7 linked regions of the Homo sapiens genome follow. The protein of the gene in region 1 purifies or fractionates together with the protein of each later gene. This does not show direct contact. Each region holds a gene or a part of one and is shown in the gene's direction. Other genes may lie near its edges. The genes, in order: OTUB2, TRAPPC8, TRAPPC11, NEXN, RCC2, ZNF211 and SOX10.

The links.
Region 2: the proteins of OTUB2 (region 1) and TRAPPC8 purify together in Homo sapiens (affinity purification with mass spectrometry; one large-scale study listed by BioGRID and IntAct). This does not show direct contact.
Region 3: the proteins of OTUB2 (region 1) and TRAPPC11 purify together in Homo sapiens (affinity purification with mass spectrometry; one large-scale study listed by BioGRID and IntAct). This does not show direct contact.
Region 4: the proteins of OTUB2 (region 1) and NEXN purify together in Homo sapiens (affinity purification with mass spectrometry; one large-scale study listed by BioGRID and IntAct). This does not show direct contact.
Region 5: the proteins of OTUB2 (region 1) and RCC2 purify together in Homo sapiens (affinity purification with mass spectrometry, with the first as the bait; one large-scale study listed by BioGRID). This does not show direct contact.
Region 6: the proteins of OTUB2 (region 1) and ZNF211 purify together in Homo sapiens (affinity purification with mass spectrometry, with the first as the bait; one large-scale study listed by BioGRID). This does not show direct contact.
Region 7: the proteins of OTUB2 (region 1) and SOX10 purify together in Homo sapiens (affinity purification with mass spectrometry, with the first as the bait; one large-scale study listed by BioGRID). This does not show direct contact.

Annotation. Positions count from the first base shown.
Region 1 is NC_000014.9:94,024,858-94,029,139, forward strand, and holds the start of OTUB2 (ubiquitin thioesterase OTUB2), read left to right. Parts: upstream 1-1,482; 5' UTR 1,483-1,680; coding exon 1,681-1,683; intron 1,684-4,282. UniProt on the Homo sapiens protein: Hydrolase that can remove conjugated ubiquitin from proteins in vitro and may therefore play an important regulatory role at the level of protein turnover by preventing degradation.
Region 2 is NC_000018.10:31,828,697-31,831,912, reverse strand, and holds the end of TRAPPC8 (trafficking protein particle complex subunit 8), read left to right. Parts: intron 1-923; coding exon 924-1,158; 3' UTR 1,159-2,716; downstream 2,717-3,216. UniProt on the Homo sapiens protein: Plays a role in endoplasmic reticulum to Golgi apparatus trafficking at a very early stage. Maintains together with TBC1D14 the cycling pool of ATG9 required for initiation of autophagy. Involved in collagen secretion.
Region 3 is NC_000004.12:183,711,293-183,714,089, forward strand, and holds the end of TRAPPC11 (trafficking protein particle complex subunit 11), read left to right. Parts: intron 1-1,307; coding exon 1,308-1,352; 3' UTR 1,353-2,297; downstream 2,298-2,797. UniProt on the Homo sapiens protein: Involved in endoplasmic reticulum to Golgi apparatus trafficking at a very early stage.
Region 4 is NC_000001.11:77,926,624-77,930,123, forward strand, and holds part of NEXN (nexilin), read left to right. Parts: intron 1-92; coding exon 93-269; intron 270-2,692; coding exon 2,693-2,881; intron 2,882-3,500. UniProt on the Homo sapiens protein: Involved in regulating cell migration through association with the actin cytoskeleton. Has an essential role in the maintenance of Z line and sarcomere integrity.
Region 5 is NC_000001.11:17,419,178-17,422,677, reverse strand, and holds part of RCC2 (protein RCC2), read left to right. Parts: intron 1-386; coding exon 387-475; intron 476-1,849; coding exon 1,850-1,964; intron 1,965-3,500. UniProt on the Homo sapiens protein: Multifunctional protein that may affect its functions by regulating the activity of small GTPases, such as RAC1 and RALA. Required for normal progress through the cell cycle, both during interphase and during mitosis.
Region 6 is NC_000019.10:57,636,168-57,639,667, forward strand, and holds part of ZNF211 (zinc finger protein 211), read left to right. Parts: intron 1-3,500.
Region 7 is NC_000022.11:37,974,556-37,978,055, reverse strand, and holds part of SOX10 (transcription factor SOX-10), read left to right. Parts: coding exon 1-189; intron 190-3,500. UniProt on the Homo sapiens protein: Transcription factor that plays a central role in developing and mature glia.

The DNA of each region.
Region 1 (4,282 bases):
GCAGAGAGTGAGCCCAGGACTCGGGGCTTAGTGCAGCCAAACTTGAGGGCTCATCAAAGCCTTGGCTGAAAAGACTCTTCACCCATACCCCTCACTCAGACACCATGGAACCTGGCTCAGTCATTCCTCCACAGAGGGAAGCTAACACGCCTTGGAATGAGCACTGGTTGGGGAGTCAGGAGTCCAGGGATCCAGCCCAGCCAGGCCACTTCTTAGCTCAGCAGCACTGGGCTGCTCCTGTCACCTCTCTGGCTTCCTTGGCGGTTAAAAAAAAAAAAAGAGCGAGAAACCCCCCGAAAACAAATGGGGGTCAGGGGCGGAGGCAGGTAACACAGCCCCTGTAGTCACATGCAGAGTGAATTCGAAACCAGCTCTGGAGTCACACTGCCTGGGACTGAATCCCACTTCAGTGCTATGTGACTAAGGCAAGGAACGTAAACTCTCTGTACATGTTTCCTCATCTGTGAAACAGGGATAATAATAACAGGACCTACCCCCTTAAACCAGTTGTGAGGAAATTAAGTAAGATAATTCTGTATATGTGGAGAGTTCAGGATAGCGCCTGATACATAGTAGGTGTTCTGCATAACTGTGTAAATAACTGTAAAAAATTACCTGCTATTGTTACTGCTCCTTGAGCCTCCATTGACCTCACACTCCCTGCCCAGGACATGATACATGCTTGGAAGACTCAGATGTCTGTATGCCCAGAGCCTAGCCCAGTACCTGGGACTTACGTAGTAAGAGTGGGGCGCGGGGGGCGGGGGCGGGGGGCAGCAGCAGGAAGGGGAATTGCTCAATACACGCTCCTGGAAATATTAATTTTTTGAAGTGGATGCATGCAATGCACTGAGCCCCCCTCCCCTACAAACTCTCCCTCCCACACCCAAGCAGCTCCTCCAGGACTCAAGGGCTGGTGAATGAATCTTTGAATGATAAATATTCCTATTTTGATGTCCATTAATAATGAGCTTGTAGGCAAGATGAGTCATCTAGACCTGGTTCACGGATATCCCTACAATTCCAGAGCCACAGAGTCAACGATCCTGGACATTCATTCATTCAACAAACATTAACTGGGTGCGTGGCAACCTACTGATTCATGAGTTGGAAGAGGATAAAATATTATATAGAAGCCATACTTAATGTTATTGGACACGTGTTCCCTAAGCGCCTATCCTCTGATCTTGTGCAAACTATACTTATGTGACCTTGTTTATGAATTAATGACGGCCAGCTAATCCTTCAGAAGACTCCAATTTTAGGTTTGCGCAAAAGCCCTTCAGCCTTTACAAACGAGGACCTGTCTTTCTGGGTTGAGCTAACTCCTCTGCTAGTTAAAAGCTTTCCTGTGTCTTTAAAAGGGGGAGGCATCCTATCAAATGGACCCTAACGCATAGGCTGAAGGCACGTGAAGTCCCACCCACTTTCTATGACGTCCCGCGTCCCGGCTTCTGATTGCCCGCCTGAGACGTCAATCGCAGGGCGTGTGTCTTGCTGGGACACAGTGGAGGTCTAACCTTTGGTTTGCGGAGCGGTCGGGTGTATTCTCCGCCGCCCCCACGCCCTCGAGGTCCCCGCCACCGAACCAGCGGCGGAGCCCGCCCGCGCCTCCCGCGGCATTCCCGCACCGGATCGCTCCTCGCTGGGGCGGGACCTGGCCTGGCGGCTCTGGTCACTATGGTCAGTGATCGTGGGGGATCGCGAAGGGGGAGCGGGCAGGGGGCGCGGTGGGCGGGGTCGCTGCCGGAGCGGGTGCACCCGCGGGACGGGGGTCGGACGCGAGGCTCAGCCCCCAGCTCGCCCCCGCCGCTTTCCGACCCCCTGAAATACGGAGTCCGGACGGATACTGAGGGCCAAGTCGCGCCCCCCTGTACCCCGTGGATGTGCAGCTGAGGAGGTCCAGCTCGGCCCCGAGCCCCCGCCCCCAGCGTGTCCGCCCCAGGTGGCCCGGGGCGCCGCCTCGACGGCGCTGGGTGGGCGCCCTCGACGGAAGCAGGGACAGGGAGGCTGCAGCACTACGGGTCGCCTCCTCTTTGTTAAGTAGCCCCCCAGTCAGCAGTCCACGGCCCCACCCACCCGACGGCTCGGCCGTCAAAGACCTCCTGGCCCCTGCCCCAACCCCAAGGGAGGATCTAGGGGTTGCACGGGGCACCAGGTCGTCTGCTCCGTGGGCGACTAGACCGTCTCCATCTTTGGAGTCAGGACCCACCTAGAGAGGATGCCTCAAGTTGTGAGGCGCATGAGTTAGGGGTCGGGGAAAAGAAAATACTCAGGAATCCCTGATGGAGAGCCTTGTCTGCGCAGAACGAGGCCCAGAGACCCTCTGAGCCAGGCTAACCCTGGGCTTGGGCAGGTGGGGAAACTGAGGCCAGACAGGGCAGGGCTGGTACTGATTGTGGTGGACCTGGGGCTTGAACCCAGGCTCTGGACTCTCAGTTCAGTGCTCTTTGTGTTACATCGGCTCACCTTCCAGGTTGCCGTGGGGTCAGGCATCCTGCAGGGGACTGGGTGGCATGGCTGCCTAAGACCCTTCAACCCTGAGCAGGGGGAGCCTGTGGAGTGAGGGCTGGGTGGCTTGAGTCGGGGCCACACAGCCCCAGGTTCAAGTCTCACTTCCACCTGTTGGAAAGCGAAGAGGCTTTGGTTGGTCCGCTCTCCCCCTCAGCACCGTTTTGCACATCTGTGTCATGGGAACCATGTGATATGATTAGCTGGAGCTTTTCCTGTGACAACAGAGTCCTGGAAATGGGTGTGCACAGATGCCTGGTTCTTCAAGCTTAGCCTCCTCTCTCCTATGACTGGGCAGGAAAATGGGTCACCACGGCAGCATGCTGCCGGGCTGGGGCATGGGTCAAAGCCTGGTCATGGCCTGGCACGATCTGGGTGTGGCATAGGCAGCCAGGGCACTCGAGCTGGGACTGTCCTTGCCAAGCCAGCCTGCTGCCTGGGGCATAGCTGGGGGCCTCTGGAGCATCTGGAAGCACCAGCTTCCTGCTTCCACTTGGTGCCCAAGGGTTTACCTGGTTGAGCTGCTCCTGGAAGGCAGCCCAGGTGTTTCTGCATCACCCACCAGGGAGTGGTGGAGCTGGGGTAATGATGGGCTTAGCCACCCGGGAGCTGGAGGCTGGCATGCCCTCTGGCCACCACTCGGCAGCTGAGAGCACAGCAGAGGCGGTAGCTGCTCTTTGTGCCATGCAGTGAGGCCGCTCACTCTGCTCCCTATCTGCCCTGACTCAGGAGACTGGAAGTTAGATGGCAGATGGGGTCCAAAGCCCTCACCCCTCACCGGGGGCTTGGGTGCCTTGGCGAAGGATGAAGTGGTTAACCCACTAAAATATGACGTCTGTCTGGTAATCACAGGGGTGGAGGCCATGCAGGGTCTTTTCCCTTCCCTGCACATGGCATTTATTGAGCACCTACTGCATGCGGGGACCATACTGGGCCCTGTGCTGCATGGTGGGTTTTTATGTTGAACTTGCATTGTGTGGATGGTGGTGACAGAAGGAATATCCTTGGAAAATACAGCATCTTCTTTACTTTCCTGTTTCTACATCACTGGGCTAAGCTTGAGGAAGGGCGCCCCGTGGAAGACACAAAGACACTTGGGAAGGTAGGGGTGAGACAAGGACCAGACCTCTGGCAGGGACTGCAAATAGCTAGGGTTCTCGTGCACTCAAGGTGCATTTCATGTTTGACGAATGAATGAGTCAGACATAAGCAGGAAAACCGCAGGGTCCTATTGTGCTTTGTTCTGTTATTTGTCAAACAGGCCCCCAGTGGGCACCTTTGTCAGGCCTGTGCTGGGCACTGTGACACTGATGAGAAAGACAAGGTGCCTGCCCGCTGTAGGAGCTCACTGCCTGCTGGCCAAGACAGCTGGACACAAGCAGTGTCTGAGCTACAGGTCATGCCTAAGAGGCCTAAGGACATTGGGAACACAGTGAGAGGTCAATATGCTCTGAGGGAGTGGGGGTGTTGGAAGGTTCTGCAGAGGAGGTCTTTTGAGCTGAGTTGAAGGATGTATATGAGTGTTCAAGAAGGATTTGGGAAGGGCACATTCCTTTTGGCGGGTGCGGGGGGACAGTGGGCTATCAGGCCTTGAAGCATGGTCAAGAATAGGGGATTTTGGCAAAGGTGAACAGCCTCTGAAGATGCAAGGAGATTGAGGGAGGCAGGGAAATTGAGTCTAGAAAATTTGGTGGGGTCAGGATGTTCTGTGCAGGGCCTCACTTGCTGTGCTGTGGGGTTTGGGTTTTATTCCACCAATGAGGGGGAAACC
Region 2 (3,216 bases), on another chromosome or scaffold:
TTTTTTTTTCTTGATTATAAAATAGTACTTAACAACAAAAAAAAATCCAGATCCACAGTCCCACATCAGATACTCCTAGAGCCAAATGCTTTTGGGAATTCAGAAATTTTTGAATTTTTGGAAAAATACTATAAAGCGTATACTTAATATTTTTGTATAACACCCCAAACAGGATCTGGGACAGTTCTCTGAAATCCAAACACACACCTATATATGTGATTTTGTGTATCATAAATTTATTAATACTTTATTGGGTACTGGGTTTTCCATTTTTCAATATTATAAACAGTTTCAATATTAAAAGCATTCATGTACAGACACTTATATATGGCTAACTAAGGAGTTAAAAGTTTAGGTTTGAAATCAAGTTCCAACATATACTAACTCTTAGGGCATTAAATGAAATAATCCACTTTTAGCATTGTGCCTAGAGAATAGAAACTATTAAATAATAAATGTTAGCTGTTATAGTAATGATGTTGCTATTATTAATAAACAGTTGGCTTCATAAAATAATTTTTAGAAATAGAATTGTTAGATGAAAGGGATGTTTGTTTTCTTCTTGAGATGGAGTCTTGCTCTCTCATGGGCTGGAGTGCAGTGGTGCAATCTCAGCTCACTGCAACCTCCGCCTCCCAGGTTCAAGTGACTCTCCTGCCTCAGCCTCCTGAGTAGCTGGGATTACAGGCGTGCACCACCATACCTGGCTAATTTTGTATTTTTAGTAGAGACGGGGCTTCATTATGTTGGTAGGCTGGTCTTGAACTCCTGATCTCAGGTGATCCACCTGCCTCAGCCTCCCAAAGTGCTGGGATTACAGGCGTGAGCCACCGCGCCCAGCTGAAAGGGATATGTTAATGTGACTTTGGGAAAAAAATTAAAAAGAAAAAAATCCTGCAACTTACATTTTCCTCCTCCCTTAGTCCAGAAGCACTGGAAATCCATGGATCATTCACATGGCTTGGACAAACACAGTATAAACTTCAACTTAAAAGCCAGGAGATTCACAGTCTGCAGCTGAAAGCATGCTTTGTTCATACAGGTGTTTATAACCTTGGAACTCCTAGGGTATTTGCCAAGTTATCGGACCAAGTTACAGTGTTTGAAACAAGTCAGCAGAATTCCATGCCTGCCCTGATCATCATCAGTAATGTGTGACAACTTGGAAATTTGTACTGAAATCCACAATAATCAGTTTTTGCTGGATGGGTTTTACAGCAGTATTTGATATACCTAACTTGTTATGGAGGTTGATTGATATCTGATCCCTGCAAAATACTTTGACTTGTCATTTTGTTGATGATGCAAAGCACGTTGGACTGAGAATACTTAACATTCTTTTTCTGTATTTCTTTAAACCCTGAGAATAATTTACATGCTCATAATACAGGATATCAGCATATTTGTGCACCTTATTAAGCCCCATCTTAAGAAAACACAAAGTCTAAGTCTGCTGTTACAACTTGTCAATGGTATACGAATATTAGGAGATGATTCTGAGAAAGGAAAGGCCTTGTTGGCAGTACTCCTGTTAAGCCATTAGTCTCTAAATTCCAGCTTTACTGTGAAGTTCTATAGAGTGTTAAATACAAATTTTCCTGTCTTGCTTCACACAGTTCCTTAAAATCAGTTTTGAACTTTGGTCATAGAGTCTTCATATTTCAGTATTTGGTGGTCCCTATGACTTATACATAACTTTGTAAAAAGAAAAAAAAATTTTTTCTGATGCTTTGAATATAGTTTTGAAAGGAGTTTTGACTTTTTTCCCCTCATTCATCTCAGTATAGAGTGCGCTATTTCACAATACGATTTTTGTCATTAAAATTACCATATTCTTTATTATATAACGTTAACTATTGAGTTGATCTGTTTAAAATATAAATCTCAAGTTAATTAAAAATAAGCTTTTCAAAAATGTATTATATTTATAACAAATATACTGTAAATAGAATAAAGACATGCTATTCACTGTATAGCGTATTAGTATCTGTTGATTAGAAAGTCTGGTTTCAAAATATTTTTTTATTCAGAGAATGGGCATTTGGACATAAGAAATTTCAATTCAGCCCTGCTGCAGATAGAGAAATGGGAGCAAGGTTGTTTCAATGAATATCTCTTGTCATTGGAGAAGGAGGGAAGACAGGGTGTAGGAGTGGGTGGCAGGGAGTACAAGAGCCAGGGTCAGTCAAGTCTGGAGCAGATGGGGTCCTTGTGCCATTGACAGCTACCATGGTTTGTTCCAGTCTCAATCTCGGCACTAATCGGAGCAGACTGCACCAAAGTGGGGAGAGATCAAAAGACCCCGTTTTCAGACTGAAGATTCCAAACCTGTACTTGGAACAACTCTTCTTGAGAGATGGGTGGCTAGTCTGTGTGCCTCTCTGCAACTGCTGCTTATGCTTCTGGATCTTAAGTGGGTCTCTGGCTTTTCAGCTCCTTCCACTCTGTGTCTTAGCAGGTGTGGGACAAGTTGGAGAGGAAGGTCACATTCTAAGGACACTCATTTCCTTCTTGAGAGTTTAGGGCCATGGGCTTATAAAAAGTCTGAGGAGGAAAGACAAGAATGAGGAGGCATAATCACAGTGGTATCTCATATTTAAACCACTCAGCTGAATATTAAATTGAACCGATTGTTAAACAGACACTAATAAAAAAATTAAACTATATAAACCTACAACTGAATATATTAAAAATAAAGGTAATAAAGCACTCAAAATTACTTCCTGAATATTACTCAGGATTATTTATGTCTATTTTATCTGTATCCTGGAAATACTACACAATGGTGTGTTTCTGCTCATCTCTTGCCAACCCTACATTCAGTGACTTGCTGGTAGCTTGAAATCAATGATAGTAGAATGTTTACCTCAGGAAAACCAGCAAATGCTACACACCAGGGCTTGATTTATTTATTTTTGTTGTCTACGCTAGACCTAAGAAAGTGATGGAGAAAATGTTAGTGATGCATATTAAAAGTGTTGCATATTTGTAGCTGTAACGAGTAGCACAAATAGTTTAGGAAAATATTCCTGCAGTATCTGAAAAGTTTTACCCAGTTCAACAAAGAAGTTGCCCGTATCACTGATGAACTAGTGAAGATCCAACATGTGTTTTCTCACTTCCTCTTCCTCGTTAATGTAAACAGAAATATCAACCAGCATTCATACTAAAATTATTCTCGCTTATCAATTGCAACATAGGTTGGTTTTCTATACA
Region 3 (2,797 bases), on another chromosome or scaffold:
CTTAGTTACACTGCCACATTTCAAGTGCTCAATCGCTAAATGTGACTAGCGACTGCCATACCAGACAGTGACGTCCTAGGCAAGGATGAATCCATACTTTTCTTCCTTTGAATAAAAGGCTTTGGTTTTCTAATTGTATGATGCACTCATTTTTTGCTCTTGCTTGTAAAAGCTACATTTGGCAGGGATTTCACTAGCTTGAGCCATGATTTTGTTTCTAAAATTGAGCAGCTCCCATCAGTACTAAAAAAACAGTCAAGAATCAAGGATCGGGAACCTATTTCACTCACTCCATTCCTGCCGTGAATGTCTGGAAGCTATACTTAGCTATGTTTCTGTATGTATGTACACACACACTGCTATATACATCTGAACAACCACAGCAGCAGCAAACTGAAAGCAGGAGTGCTGTCTTCACTGCCTCGGGAATGCCTCAGAATCTTTCTGCTTAAAGCATAGCAAATCACTTTTGATTGTGAACACTCTTCTGTTTCATTTCCTGATCATCTTTCTCCTGCTTTCCCCACAAAGGTCTGCTATTGTATATCTGTATAATAAAATAAAATTATTTGTAAGAATTGTATTCTTTTAGCTACTAGCTATCCCTCTGGGATGTTGTTAACCTGCCAGAAATTTTACAACTAAAAACAGTTACGATACCTTTTATTCATTCTTAGTCTTGACTTTTCTGACGTGATGTTTTAAATTCTTTCAATCAGTGATCTTAGAGATAGGGCAGTTTTTGTTTTTATCTGCCACTTTTATCCTTGCAGCATGCATTGGAGTTCACTGCAGACACTTTTTCTCAAACAGGAGATTGGGCAACCTTGAGTCCCCAAAAGGAACTTACCTGTCAGCTCAGGCTCTGGACCTGCTTAAAGCTTGAGACACAGGAGGGCCCTGAGCAAGAGAGAGAGAATAAAACTATCAGTTAAGTAGGAATGATAAACAAGGTTCCATTCCACATGTGGGAGATGGCCTGGCAGTAGCTGCTGGAACGCAGGGTTGAGAGAGAAGTACTGACAGAAGAGGATTCTTCGGGTGGAAGTGCAGAGTCAGCTGGTGATGGCTACAGGAGAGGGCAGCTCCCAGCCTGTGCCGTGGCCATCCCCAGGTGCAAGTGAAGAAAGAAAGAGGTGGGGTGAAAGGAGGAGAATCACCATATCACCATTTTTATTTTGATGCTTACACTCATTTATTCTGTTTTTGTAAAACAGTTTCAAGAATTTAAAAATCCTTCCAGTTAATAGAGCTTTTGTTATTATATTATAATTTTGTAAACCCACTTTGTTTTTCCCACTTTAAAGCCACAGGGTCGACTCATGGATGATACCTCTATTGCTGCTGCATGATGTTCAAGACCGGCCCTTGGCTGTTGTTACAGAGATGTTGGGCAGAGCTATGCAGGTGTTTCATTGTGAACTCTAGCTTTGATCATGGTAAAAAGTTAACCTTTTCTATTTTTTAATGGATGTTATACCAACTATTCAGAGGAACTCATACTTCAAAAATATTAGGAAAATCTGTCTTATAGTTTCTCTAATAAATATCTGAAATCTCAGTACGACATGAAAGAATGTCAGACCATTGTTATTGTTGAAAGTCATTTGATGAATGGTAAATTCTATGAAAAGTAAGTGATTTGCATGTATAATATCAGGAAAATTAAGCATCCCAAGTGTGACTGGACAAAGAGAGCAGATGCACCAGTGCCTGTGCCATAAAGTTCCGAATCCCCCATGTGTCTCTTTCAGAGCTGGCCAGACCGGAAATAAATCATTCTCATAAATTCAGTGTGTACTCAGAACACATACACAACAACATAGGGAGTTGTATGACTGATACGGAAAACTTCCAGAAAGTTTTAATCAAAGCAGTTTAATTAAGGTATCAAAAATATCTTTGCTTACTATCAAGAAGTGTCAAATAGGTTCAGCTTGCTGCCAAAATATGGATCATTTATGAAGCAGGTTCATATTTTAGAGGTGTTAATAAAATCCTCATCGGAAAAGATCCAAAGTGCAAGGATTTGATTATAAACATAATTTCCTAGACTGAAAGTTTTTGGAAAAGATGCAGGGTCTGAGTCAGGCCTTCTGGTTATATTGTGCAGTTTCAAAAGAACTATTTAAAACTCTTGAAAACTCATGTAAATAAAAATCATAGGGTGAAAATTGTATTTGTTAAAATACCTTAATAATTTAAAATGACCTGATTTCCTGGAAAATTTTATTATTCAAAAGGTGGAGGCATTGTAAAAAGGAAATAGTGATGTAAATAAACATGTTCTCTTTCAAGTATGCTTGTCTGTCTCTATCTTTTATTTTGAGCTTGTTTGATTTCAGCTTCATGGAACAGCTTTTACTAAGAACACTGTTGCATGAGATGCAATGGCAAGCACAGGATTGAAAATTGGGCTGTGTTCTAGAACTGGCTCTGGTAACATTATGTGAGAGTTGGACAGTGCTATCTTGGGAGGACATGAGCTCCCTGTTGTAACATGGCTTTTCAGGTAGAGGCCATGGAGCATGACTCTAGAGTCCAGCTGTCTAGGATCAAATCCCTCCTCTGCTGCTTTTGTCTGGGTGACGTTGTTCAAGTTCCTTACCCTCTGTGTATCTCAGCGTTCTTGTATATAAGATGTAAATAACACCCATCTTATAGGCTTGTTATGAAGGATGATATAGATTCATACATGAGAAGAGCTTGGAACAGTGCCAGACCCAAAGTTATGTATGAGGGTGCTCAGCCAGTGTCATCTATATTTTTATGGGAAGGCTGAAGAGGGTATTCACTT
Region 4 (3,500 bases), on another chromosome or scaffold:
TTGTTTGTTTTCTAAGAAACAAATCAAGGCAGTTTAAGTTAGCAGCATTTTCCTTTATGACTAAAAGGTGGGTTTTCATAACGTTTTCTTAGGATGATGAAATAGAAAGTGAAGCAAAAAAAGAATCACTTTCTCCCGGAAAATTGAAACTAACTTTTGAAGAACTGGAGCGACAAAGACAAGAAAACCGAAAGAAGCAAGCTGAAGAGGAAGCAAGAAAACGTTTAGAAGAAGAGAAGCGTGCTTTTGAAGAAGCAAGGCGGCAAATGGTAAATCTACATATTTAAACCTTACAATTAATATTAATGAAGTTAGCCGACTTAAGATAAGGTTTACTACTACAAATTCAAAGAGATTTTACATATAGAAGGGCTGATTTTCTAATTGTATTCATATTTCATATATAAAATACATCTAGGCTAGGCACGGTGGCTCATGCTGTAATCCCAGCACTTTGGGAGGCCAAGGTGGGTAGATCACCTGAGGTCAGGAGTTTGAAACCAGCCTGGCCAACACTGTGAAATCCCTGTAATCCCAGCTGCTTGGGAGGCTAAGGCACGAGAATCACTTGAACTTAGGCGATGGAGGTTGCAGTGAGCTGAGATCACGCCATTGCACTCCAGCCTGGGTAACAGAATGAGACTGTCTCAAAAAAAAAAATCCATACTGTTTTCCAGTTTTCACTCTGGGGCATTTTACCCAATATGCTTTAAATTTTTATTTTTATACATTGTTATTAATGTATAAATATGCAAAATAATTACTCAATGAACCTGGTTTCCTTCATCTGTTAGTTCAATCTGCAAAGTACTTAATGACATGGGTGCGGGACTGATTATAAGTGTAAACTTGTCCTCAGCAGTCCAGTTTTTCAACTGTTTGAACATATCAAAATAACAGTTTACGGTGGAATATGCAGTTTGTCCTATTAAGTGTATGTGTGTGCATATTTGTGTGCATGCCTCTGTGTGTGTGTGTCTGTGTGTGTGTGTGTGTGTGTGTGTGTGTGTAGTGTGGTTAAGAGCATGGATTGTGGGGCCAGATTGTCTAGATTCAGATATCAGCCATTTACTAACTGTGTAACCATGGACAACTGTTTTAATCTCTCGCTGTGTTAATTAATTAAATCTCTCTTAGTTTCTTCATTTTTAAAATGGTAAAAATGAAAGCGCCTACTTCTTTTTTTTTTTAACTTCCACAATGACTTGGATTTTTTTTCAATGCCTATTTCTTAAATGGTTAAACAAGTTAATATCTAGGAAGCACTTAAAATGGTGTTTGTTACATATACTAAGTTCTTTGAAAATGTTAATTATTACTATGGTATTAATAGATTTATCAACAGAAAGTAAAACTGAAATAAGAAAACACTGATTCCAAACCTCGTTTTAAGATTTAAAAATGCGCCAGGCATGGTGGCCATGCCTGTAATCTCAGCACTTTGGAAGGCTGAGGCAGGCAGATCCCTTGAGCCCAGGAGTTTGAGACCAGCCTGAGCAACATGTGGAAACCATGTCTCTACAAAAACAAATACAAAAATTAGCCAGGTGTGGTGGCACAGACCTGTAGTCCAAGCTCCCCGGGTGCTGAGGCGAGAGGATTGCTTGAGCCCGGGAAATCAAGGCTACGGCGAACTATGAATGAGCCACTGGACTCCAGCCTGGGTGACAGAGTGAGACCCTGTCTCAAAAAAAAAAAAAAAGGATCTAAAAATGGAATATTTGTAATTTTAAAGTTACAGAACTTTCTTGATCAGCTTTCTTGAATGATGTTCTAAGAATTATATATATAAAAATTTAATTTTCTAGACATTTATTTGAAAATGTTATTACTCGGGTATAGCTGCATAATATCTGCACATTTTAGATATTTCTGGTGGTCAACTTAATAAAGAAATAGTATTGTTAAATAAATAATACATTTCAATTGATATTATAGTAAATTTAATAATAAACCTTTAATGATAAAATCATAAAGCTGGAATTTTACATAAAATAGTTCTAGATAATAATCTTTTATCTGATTAGTATAAGGTACCATAGTTCACAGTAAAAAAAAAAATACAAAAATTACAAAATGAGAACATTATTTTACTACCAAAGAGATTCTGTGTAGATATACTTGAACCCCAATTATAGTACACACATACGCATTTTATATTTGTTCTGGGAAAGTTAATACTCAACAGTAACCCCTCACTGCAGCCTCAACCTACTGGGCTCAAGGGATCCTCCCACCTCAGCTTCTCGAGTAGCTGGGACTACAGGCACACACCACCACACTGGCTATAATGTGTTTTTTGGTTTTTAGTAGAGACGAAGTCTTGCTATGTTGCCCAGGCTGGTCTTGAACTCCTGGGTTCAAGTGATCCTCCTGCCTCCTAAAGTTCTGGAATTACAGGCGTGAGCCGCCACAACACCTGGCTAAAAATGTTTTAATATTCAATTTTATCTATAGAAATTTGGCTTATTTGAGAAGTTTTATTTAACCTGAGTACATCTTTATATGGAATTTCTCCAAATTTGAATATTTTATCATAGAAGACATTAAAAAGGAAGGGGATTTAGGTCAAGTATATTAAGGGCATTGAAACTCCTGTGTGATAGTGGCTAATTCTGTGCCTTTTGATTAATAATTCATTCCTTTTTCTGATGAACCTCAATTCTTAGTAATGAATTGTTTATTTGGTTAGGTAAATGAAGATGAGGAAAACCAAGACACAGCAAAAATTTTTAAAGGGTACCGCCCTGGTAAACTCAAACTCAGTTTTGAAGAAATGGAAAGGCAAAGAAGAGAAGATGAAAAAAGGAAAGCAGAAGAAGAAGCCAGAAGGAGAATAGAGGAAGAAAAGAAGGCGTTTGCTGAAGCAAGGAGAAATATGGTAAGACAGAAGCTAACTGGAGAATGCTATTAGAATTCACCTTTGAGAATATGTTAATAGAATCATTAGACTTTAGAGAATACCCTATTATTTCTGGAAACTGTGCCAAGAGTAGAAATGGCAAATATGTTTTAAAGTCTCCCATGGAATAACACCAGTTGGTTGAAGGTATTTGCTTCAATTTAGTGTTCAGAAGATTCTGCTTTAAATTGCCATGCTTGGCACAAAGGATGGAATATTATCTCCCTTCTCTGGGAAGGCATGTTTTCCAGAACTAAGTATCCAAGGAAGAAGAAGAAGTAGGGAGTTTCCTCCCTCAACTTTTCTTTCTTCCTCTCCATTCTTTCGCCACCTCCTTCCCATACTCCCTTTCTCCCTCCTTCATTCCTTTATTTCCTTCCTTTCCTTCTTTCAGTTTTCATCCCACCTACTATATATTAAATGACCTGAGTCATTTAATCAGAATTATTTCTCTCTTCAAAATGCTCACTCATCACTCCTGGAAATTGATACCTAACTTAACTGTCACAAGGTTATGACTGTACTTCCTATACCAGTTTTATGTTTGTACAATGTACAGTTATCTGACAAACAATTTTGAAGCAATTTGAGACTAGAG
Region 5 (3,500 bases), on another chromosome or scaffold:
CTCAGTTTGGCAAGAGGCCAGGTGGTCTGCCTTGGGGATGGGGCGTGGGGTGGTGGAGTTCCCCTTGTGACTCTTGGTCAGGATCAGAAAGAGGCCCTGAGAACCTTGGCATGGAGTGGCTTCTTGAGGGCATTGGGAGCCTCCCCAGTGGCCATAGGAGGCCCATCTGGGAGTAGGAGACGCTGCCCTCTGTTTCTCTGCACACCCAGTTTCTGATGTGAAATGGCTTTGCTGTGAAGCGTCTGCACTGCCAGCTTTTGGGCAGTCTCACTTGCCTTCTGCCTGGCAAATGAGCTGTTTTTATTATTTTGATGCCTTTGATTCTAAATCTAGTTCAAAACATTCACCATTATCTTCCCTTTTGTGATATTTTTCCTTTCTTCCAGAAACGGGCTCCGTGTTTGCGTTTGGGGAAAACAAGATGGGGCAGCTGGGCCTTGGCAACCAGACAGACGCTGTTCCCAGCCCCGCGCAGGTGACCCCTCCTCAGCTCCGGCTCCATGGCTTTTTGTTTCTCTTTACTTTTGTGTTTGATTTTCTAAGGTGGGGTCTCCGTTTGAGTTAATTTACCCCTTGTAAAAACAGGGTCTGGATGTTTAGTTACATGCTGTAGAGTTTTTTTGTTTGTTTTTTTGTTTTTTGTTTTTTTTTGAGAACGGAGTTTCACTCTTTTTGCCCAGGCTGGAGTGCAATGGCGCAATCTCGGCTCACTGCAACCTCCGCCTCCCGGGTTCAAGTGATTCCCCGGCCTCAGCCTCTGGAGTAGCTGGGATTACAGGCATGTGCCACCACACCTGGCTAATTTTGTATTTTTAGTAGAGACGGGGTTTCTCCATGTTGGTCAGGCTGGTCTGGAACTCCTGACCTCAGGTGATCCACCCACCTCGGCCTCCCAAAGTACTGGGATTACAGGTGTGAGCCACTGCACACAGCCTTGCTATAGTTTTTAAAACAGGCTTAGTTTGTGGTCGGGTTGAAAACCATCCTGAAAACATTTTGTTTCCAAATGGAGAAATCTGTTAGAAATGCCTTGTCGTAAGCCTGTTCTGTTCCAAAGAAAGTGAGTGATGTTATATGGATGTAATTGTACTTCCCCCAAATACTTTGTTTTGACCTTGTATAAAGTCACCAGCCAGATGCTTAGAATACAAATACGAGATAGGCAGTCTTTTTTTTTTGGAGGGGAGACAGAGTCTCGCTCTGTTGCCAGGCTAGAGTGCAGTGGCGCGATCTCAGCTCACTGCAACCTCTGCCTCCCGGATTCAAGCGATTCTCCTGCCTCAGCCTCCCGAGTAGCTGGGACTACAGGCATGCTCCACCACGCCTGGCTAATTTTTGTATTTTTAGTAGAGATGGGGTTTCACCATGTTGGCCAGGATGGTCTCCATCTCTTGACTTCCTGATCTGCCTGCCTCGGCCTCCCAAAGTGCTGGGTGTGAGCCACCGCGCCCAGGAGATAGGCAGTCTTTTTTTTTCTAAGAAACTTGAGTTGGAGGGGTGAGATTTATACCTTAAAAACAAACTACTACTAAAGGCAGAAGAATGCTAAGTGCCTAATTAGTGGTCTAGGTGATGAAGGAAGGGAGGGACTTGGTTTTATTGATCTTAAAGAGACAGTGGCTAGGCTTTGAACTGCTCTGTGCTGGGAGGGTGGGGGTCTGAGGGTGCTTCTTTACATATCTTCTAAGCTTTGTGTTCTAGAAATGCCTTCAGCTTTTGCCTTCAGAATTACTGAGTTTATTAAACTTCCGTTTGTAACCTAGTAATTGTTTCCCACCAACATGCAGAGAGGTAGAGGCTTTTTATCAGTCTTTAAAAAAAATGAAAGTCTCCTTTCTTGTCTTTTCAGATAATGTACAACGGCCAGCCAATTACCAAAATGGCCTGTGGGGCTGAATTCAGTATGATAATGGACTGCAAAGGAAACCTCTATTCCTTTGGGTGCCCTGAATATGGTCAGCTGGGTATGGAAGTACATTTTTTAAAAGCTCTGTAATCTAACTGTATATATTCAGAACTAGAGATCAGTGTGGGGCTGCACACACGTGTTAGAAATGTGGGTAATTGATCTCAGATAATAGCCTTTGTCCGTTAAGTGGATCTCACGTTCAGCAGAACAGCGCGTCCTCATTCACAGGATTATGGAGTATTGCAACACTGCCTCAATGGAAAAGTTGGGACTGGAGTCCTACAAAAGATTTCTTTTTTTCTGATTTGGGAATTCATTTATATAAAGGGATTTCAAAGTTAAAAAAAAATCAGACCACCTTCATTCAATTTCACATTTAAAGATTATGCCTTTATTGAAAATGAGAAAATTACGGAAAATGAACGTTGTTCTGGAAACCCTGGCCTGGGCGATTATTTCGGGTTGCCACGTGAGGAGCCCTGGTGGACCCCCTCCCCGTGCGTCATCCCTAGCCAGAATCTAGTTGTCCAGAAACTTGTTTCTTCGATCTCATTGGTGGAAAAGGAGAATTCAGGCATCAGTTCTCAGTTAGTGGGGGGAGTGTCTTCCGACCTGATGGTCTCCATTCTCCTTCCCATCGGACCCTAAGTGCGGTTCCCTGAAGTGCGCTTCCCGGTTGTGGCTCTGCCTCCACTCCAGCCCCTCTGGGGAGGCCTCCGCGAGGTGTGGCGCGGGCGCCCTCTGCTGGCCGCGCGCGCTCCTGCAGCCGCAGCGCCTGGCAGATGGAAAAGGTAAAAATAGCGCCGAGCCCGCTGGCCTTAGCCTCGGGGAACAGTGACTTTGTGAAACTAAATATACTTCAAGTCAGAAGTGAATAAGAGAGAACAGCCCCTTACGCACATTTCACATTTCGCGTTGGTTGCCGTGGTGGAGCCCGAGACAGTTGGAGAGCGGTTTCCATGGCCACAGCCCTGCTGCGGTGCCCAGCAGCGGTCCGCTTCCTGCCACGTGCGCGCTCCTGCTGCCTTGGCCTCCCCTCTGCACCCCGGCAAGTCGATTTTCCGTCAGGAAGCATGACATGCTGTTGGTGATAAAAACGGCTCACTTTCATGGAGCAGTGACTGTGTGTGCCAGGCACCATGTAAGCACTTTGTACAAATTCGCAGGTGCTCAGTTACACTCAACTTGCAGGTAGTTTGGAAATCGGCTTGATTTGTAGCTACAGAATCGCTTATTCTCAGCGTATTACTTGCTTTAAGGCAGGTGTTTGTTTCGTTGTCCAAATCCAGATAGATCACTTTTAGAATGAACCTAAATCCGACTATGGCCGTGTCTCATCCACACACACTCATGCCTTGTGCCCCCTTTTTTGCAGTGCACTGAACTGGGCTGGGCAACGCCAAGATAAGAAAGACGGAGTCTCCCTCTGTCACCCGGGATGGAGTGCAGTGGTGTGATCTCAGTTCACTGCAACCTCCACCTCCTTGGTTCAAGCAATTCTCCTGCCTCGGTCTCCCAAGTAGTTGGGACTACAGGCGCCCGCTGCCACACCCAGCTAACTTTTTTTTGTATTTTTAGTAGAGACGGGGTT
Region 6 (3,500 bases), on another chromosome or scaffold:
AAATGTTTTCTCTTATTCTGTGGGTTACGTTTTTAGTGTGTTGATAGGATCCTTTGATGTACAAGTTTCTCATTTTGATGAATTCAGTTTTACTTTTTTACTTTTATTGTCTATGCTTTTTATATCATATCCAAGGAATCATTAACAAGTCCAATGTCATGAAGCTTTTTCCTTGCTTTAAGACTTCTATAGTTTTAGTACTTACATTCAGATCTTTGATCTGTTTTGAATTAATTTTTATATGTGGTGTCAGGTAAGGGACCAACTTCATTCTTTCACATGTAGATATCCAGTTTTCCTAGCATCATGTGTTAAAAATTTGTCTTCTTTCTCCTGGTCAAAAATCATTTGGCCAGATATTTGAGGGTTTATTTCTGGGGTCTCTTCTAGTCCATTGATCTATATGTCTTTCTTTATGGGAGTACCACACTGTTTTAATTTCTATAGCCTTGCAGTAAGTTTTGAAATTACGAACTGTGAGTCTTCCAACTTTCATCCTTTTCAAGATTGTTTTAGCTATTCTGTGTCTCTCGATATTTCAAATGAATTTTAGGATGGATTTTTTTATTTCTGCAAAATAACGTCATTTGGATTTTGATAGGTATCGCACTTTCTATAGATTACTTTGGCTAGTATAGACATCTTAACAATATTGAGCACTCTAGTCCATGAGCAGGCATGTGATCTATTTTATTAATGTTTTATTTAATTCATTTTAGCAAAATTTTGTAGTTTCTAGTGTACAAGGCTTTTACTTGTTTGGTTAAGTTAATCTTTAATGTTTTATTCTTTTTGATATAAGTGGAATTGTTTACTTTTCAAATTGTTCACCATTAGTGTATAGAAACGTAACTGATTTTTGCATGTTGTATTTATATTCTCCTATTTGCTGAATTTCCTTATTAGTTGTAACAGTTTTTCAGTGGAATCTTTATGGTATTCCATGTATATCATCTGTGAGCAGGGATAATTTTACTCCTCCTTTCCCATTTTGGTCCCTTTTCTTTCTTTTTCTTGCCTAATTGCTATGTTGAACAGAAGTGCTAAAAGTAGCATCCTTATCTTGTCCTTAATCTTAGAGGAAAATCTTTCAGTCTTTCATTGTTGAGTATAATTTTAGCTGTAGGTTTTTTTTTTTGCATATGGATTTTATTATGTTTAGGTAATTTCCCTGTATTCCTGGTTTTCTGAGTGTTTTCCCCACGAAAAAGTGTTGCATATTGTCTAATGCTTTCAGTGCATCAGCTGAGATGATCGTTTTAATTTTTTTAGAGATGGGGTCTTGCTATGTTACACAGGCTGGTCTTAAGCTCCTGGCCGCAAGCGATCCTCCTGCCTCAGCCTACCAAGTAGCTGGGATTACAGGTGTAAGCCACCACTTTGATCAGTTTTTGTTTGTTGAACCATCCTTGCATTCCAGGAATAAATTCTATCTGGTCGTAGTGCATAATCCTTTTAATATGCTGTTGAATTCAGTTTGCTAGTGTTTGGTTGATGGTTTTTGCATTAATAATCATCAAGGATATTGGTCTGTAGTTTTATTTTCTTACACAATCTTTGTGTCATTTGGAATCAGGGTAATGCTGGCCATACAGAATGAGTTTAGATGTGTGTATGCTACAGTTTTTTGAGAGAATTTGAAAAGGATAAGTATTAGTTCTTAGTTAAATGGTTGGTAGAATTCATCTGTGAAGCCATCAAGTCAAGGGCTTTTCTTTAAGGTTTGTCTTTTTTTTTTTTTTTTTTCTTGAGACAGAGTATTGCTCTGACACCCAGGCTAGAGTGCAGTGGTGTGATCTTGGCTCACTGCAACCTCCACTTCCTGGATTCAAGCAATTCTCCTGCCTTGGCCTCCCGATTAGCTGGGGTTACAGGCACATGCCACCACACCTGGCTAATTTTTGTATTCTTAGTAGAGATGGGGTTTCACCATGTTGGCCAGGCTGGTCTTGAACTCCTGACCTCAGGTGATCCACCCACCTCAGCTTCCCAAAGTGCTGGAATTACAGGCATGAGCCACTGCACCCGGCCAGGTTTGTCAATTTTGATAACCTTTTCAAAGAAACACCTTTTGGTTTTGTTGATTTTTTTTTTATATTGTTTTTCTCTTCTCTATTTTATTTATCTAGACTTTAGTCTTTATTATTTTTTTCCTGCCAGCTTTGGTTTTAGTTTGTTCCTCTTTTTATAATCCCTTAAGTTGTAAAAATAGATTGTTGAGTTGAGATCTTTCTTCTTTTTAATGTTTATAGCTATAAATTTCCCCTTTAGTACTGCTTTTACTGCATCTCCAATTTATTTCCCTTCTGATTTCTTCATGGCCCCATTGGTTTTTCAATATTGTATTAATTTCTACAGATTTGTAAATTTTTTAGTTTCCTTCTATTAAGAGTTCCCAACCTCATCCCACTGTGGTTGGAGAAGATACTTTGTATGATGTGTGTCTAAATCAAATGAGGCTTAATTTATGGTCTGTCCTGGAGAATGTTTTTGGTACACATGAGGGGAATGTACATTCTGTTGTTGTTGGGTAGAATGCTCTTTATATATTTGTTAGAGCTAGTTGGTTGTTTAGGTCCTCTGTTTTCTCTCTTCTCTCTGATTGTTCTATCCGCTGCTGAGAGTCAGGTATTGATGTCTCTAACTGTTATTGTAGAACTATCCATTTCTCCCTTCAGTTCTGTCCATTTTTGCCTCATGTGTTTTGATGGTCTATTATTAGGTGCATAAGTGTTTATAAGTGTTATATCTTCTTGCTCTACTGAACCTTTTATTAGTATATAATATCCTTTTATATCTCTTGTTACCCTTTTTGATTTAAAATCTCTATTGTATGATATTAATGTAGCCATTCTTACTCTTTTTTGCTTGCTATTTGCATGGAATATCTTTTTGTAGGCTGTCACTTTCACCTCATTTACATCTTTGGATCTAAAGCAAATCTCTTGTAGACATCATAAAGTTGGATCATGGGTTGTTTTTATTTTAACCCATTCTGCCAATCTTTGTCTTTTGGCAGAGTTTAAGCTAAAAGTTGGGAGCATTTAAGGCATTTACGTTTAAGGTAATCACTGATAAGGAAGGGCAGACTTCTATCATTTTGCTCTTTGTTTTCCCCATGTCTTATAGCCTTATAGCTTTTTTGATCCTAATTTCCTGCATTACTGCTTCTTTTGTGTTTGGCTCACTTTTTTTTTTTTTTTTTTTTAGTGAAACTTCCCTTGTCATTTCCTTTATGTACTTTTTTTTTTTTTTTTTTTTTTTTTTTTTTTAATGGTGTCTCACTCTGTTGCCCAGGCTGGAGTGCAGTGGGGCGATCTCGGCTCACTGCAACCTCTGCCTCCCATAATCAAGCGATTATCCTGCCTCAGCCTCCTGAGTAATCCCTCCTGGGATTACAAACGCACACCACCACACCCAGCTAATTTTTGTATTTTTAGTAGAGACAGGGTTTCACCATGTTGGCCATACTGGTCCCAAACTCCTGACCTCAGTTGATC
Region 7 (3,500 bases), on another chromosome or scaffold:
ACTACAAGTACCAGCCCAGGCGGCGGAAGAACGGGAAGGCCGCCCAGGGCGAGGCGGAGTGCCCCGGTGGGGAGGCCGAGCAAGGTGGGACCGCCGCCATCCAGGCCCACTACAAGAGCGCCCACTTGGACCACCGGCACCCAGGAGAGGGCTCCCCCATGTCAGATGGGAACCCCGAGCACCCCTCAGGTGAGTGCTGATGACAGAGCTGAGGGTGGGGCAAGGCCAGTCAGTGGAGACAGGAGATGGCTGGATGGCAATGAGACCCTGGACTCTAGGGAGAGCGTGCCAGGCTGTGCAGTTGCCCCAGCAGAGCTGCAGGGGCCCAGAGGGAGCTCCATGGGGGTTCCGGTGCCAGGGGAAGTGGCTGGGTGAGATGGCTCTGGCCAGGGCTGATCCTACTGGGCAAAGAGGGCCAGTTAAAGACTGTGGAGGCCGCCGGGTGTGGTGGCTCACACCTGTAATCCCAGCACTTTGGGAGGCCGAGGAGGGCAGATCACGAGGTCAGGAGATCGAGACCATCCTGGCTAACATGGTGAAATCCCATCTCTACTAAAAATAAAAAAAATTAGCTGGGCGTGGTGGCGAGCACCTGTAGTCCCAGCTACTCAGGAGGCTGAGGCAGGAGGATGGCGTGAACCCAGGAGGCGGAGCTTGCAGTGAGCCGGGATCGCGCCACTGCACTCCAGCCTGGGCGACAGAGCGAGACTCTGTCTCAAAGAGAAAGAAAAAAAAAAAGACTCTGTGGAGGTCATGGAGTGAGAGGTGGCTGGGGCAGTTACAAGTAAAGGGGGAGAAGACAGGATGGTTTTGAGAAATGGAAGAGCAAATGGAGGAGAGGAAATCACTGCCTCTTTCCCACCAGCCATTCTTTTTTTTTTTTTTCTGGAGACAGAGTCTCACTCTGTCGCCCAGGCTAGACTGCAGTGGCATGATCTCGGTGCACTGCAACCTTTTCCTCCCGGGTTCAAGCAATTCTCCTGTCTCAGCCTCCCAAGTAGCTGGGACTACAGGTGCACACCGCCACGTCTGGCTCATTTTGTGTATTTTAGCAGAGACAGGGTTTCACTATATTGCCCAGGCCCAGTCTCAAACTCCTGAGCTCAGGCAATCTGCCCGCCTCGGCCTCCCAAATCCCACCAGCCATTCTGACAGAGGAGACATGGCATGTGATACCGTGTCTGGCCATGGATGGGCCAGACATAAGCTATCTTGTTTAATTTTCATTAATGATAATAACAGCTAACCTTAATTGAGCAGCTACTCTGTTCCAGGCACTGTGCTAGGTGCTAGTTGCCTTATGTATACTAACTCAATCCTTGCAAACAATGTGATGAGGTACCCAAACTGCCTGGGCTCAGATCTCAGCTGTGGCAAGTTACTCTCATTTTACTGATGAGAAACAAACAGGAACTTCCCCAGTTTGGCTCCCGGGCATCTGCTTGGCACCACAGCTGCCTTGCCTGTGTTCCTAATGTACAGAAAGTGACACACACAGGTCTGCCACATGGGAAGTGCTCAGTGAGCAGAGCTCTGCCTTCAGAGGACACGCTCTGAGTCCTACTTTGTGTCAAACACTGGAGTGGACACCAGGGGTACTAACCAGAGAAGCCTACAGTCCCTGGCCTCAGGGGCCCATAGTCTAGAGAGAGGAGCAGGGATGAAAACGAGTGAATTAAGTACAGGAAGAAACAAAGCTAGGCATGGTGGAATGCGCCCGCAGTCCCAGCTACACAGGAGGCTGAGGTGGGAGGATCACCTGAGCCCATGAGTTTGAGACCAGCATGGGCAATGTAGTAAGACTCTGTCTTTTTTTTGTTTTTGTTTTTGTTTGAGATGGAGTCTTGCTCTGTTGCCCAGGCTGCAGTGCAGCGGTGCCATCTTGGTTCACTGCAACGTCTGCCTCCTGGGTTTAAGCGATTCTTGTGCCTCAGCCTCCTAAGTAGCTGGGATTACAGATGCACGCCACCACACCCAGCTAATTATTGTATTTTTAGTAGAGATGGTTTTTCACCGTGTTGGCCAGGCTGGTCTCGAATTCCTGACCTCAGCCTCCCAAAGTGCTGGGATTACAGGCATGACCCAGCACGCCCAGCCTCCTATCTCTTACTATATATATAGTATATATATAGAGAGAGAAACAAGTGCACAAGAAGTCTGTGTGAGATCCAGAGGTGGCATGGCCGTCTATCCCATCCAGTCAGGTCTCCAAGAACACCCCACTGCCCACCAGACTCTTGTCAAGGAAGGCTTCCAGAAAGAGGCAATGCCTGGGCTGCTTGGTACAATCTCTATTTTACTGATAAGGAAACTAGTTAAGAGAAGACTGGGGATTTGTCCAGACACAGAACCAGGATTCAAAAGCCTAGGCAGGTCTCTTGAAGTACAGAGCCCTTGGCCAATGCAGGACTTGGCGCTGCCTCTGGTCTGATGAAGGAGGCACAGGCCTGTCCTTGGGGAGCTCCTAGTCTCTTAAGACCATGGACATGTTCTGTCTCCATTGGGATGCCAGGCAGTCATCCCTCCCACACACGTGTACATACTCTTCACCTTCAAAGATTCAGGGACACACACACACACATCAGGAGACCCTGGACCACATACAGAGCAACCACCTCAGAATGAAACTGGACACAGACTTTTTCTCACCCTTCAAGGCCCCACCCCACTCAGACATCCTTCCCTGATCAAACCTTCCCCAAATCCCTGAGGCAGCGGGTGGACTCCTCCTCTGGTCTCCCAAGTCCTTGCATATTGTCACCACAGCACTTCCAACTCTGGGTGCATGTGGATCTATGGATCTATGACTAGACTATGAGCTTTTGGGAACAGGGATCCATTTTATTTACATTAGTATCCCCAGCACCTGGCACAGTACCTGGCATTTTGTAATGCTCCCTAAGAGTTTGCTAAATTAATATGTGAATAGGAAAGTGAACAGACAAAGGAACAAGGACCAGTTTTCTAAGTGCCCTCCCATGGAGGAAGGCAGCTCAAAGAACAACAGGGCAACACAGGCCAGCGTATGACGGGGCTAAGGGCTTGCCAGTGGGCTGGGAAGCAGGGTGGGCTCAGGAGGAGGGAAGGGTTGGAAAGGACACAACATGAGGCCAGGACAGGGAGCAGGCCCAGGCAACCAGCAAAGGTGAAACAGAGCACTCAGGAGCCTGGGCGAGCGAGGCTCAGCAAGGAAGACAGTAGGCATGGGTGTGGAAGCGGGGCTGGCAGAGCGCAAAGGCTGGGCCAGACCACCTGGACAGCAGAGAAGCTGATGAGAGGAAGAACTTTCCACAGGAAAGGTTTTTTCAGAATGAGGCAGGCCTCCCCAGGACCCATCCCTAAGATTTGAGAATTTCATAAACAACTAGAGATCAATCTAAGACACCAGTATTTAAACAAATGCTGTGGGGCGCAGTGGCTCATGATGGTAATCCCAGCACTTTGGGAGGCCGAGGCAGGTGGATCACCTGAGGTCAGGAGTTCAAGACAACCCTGGCCAA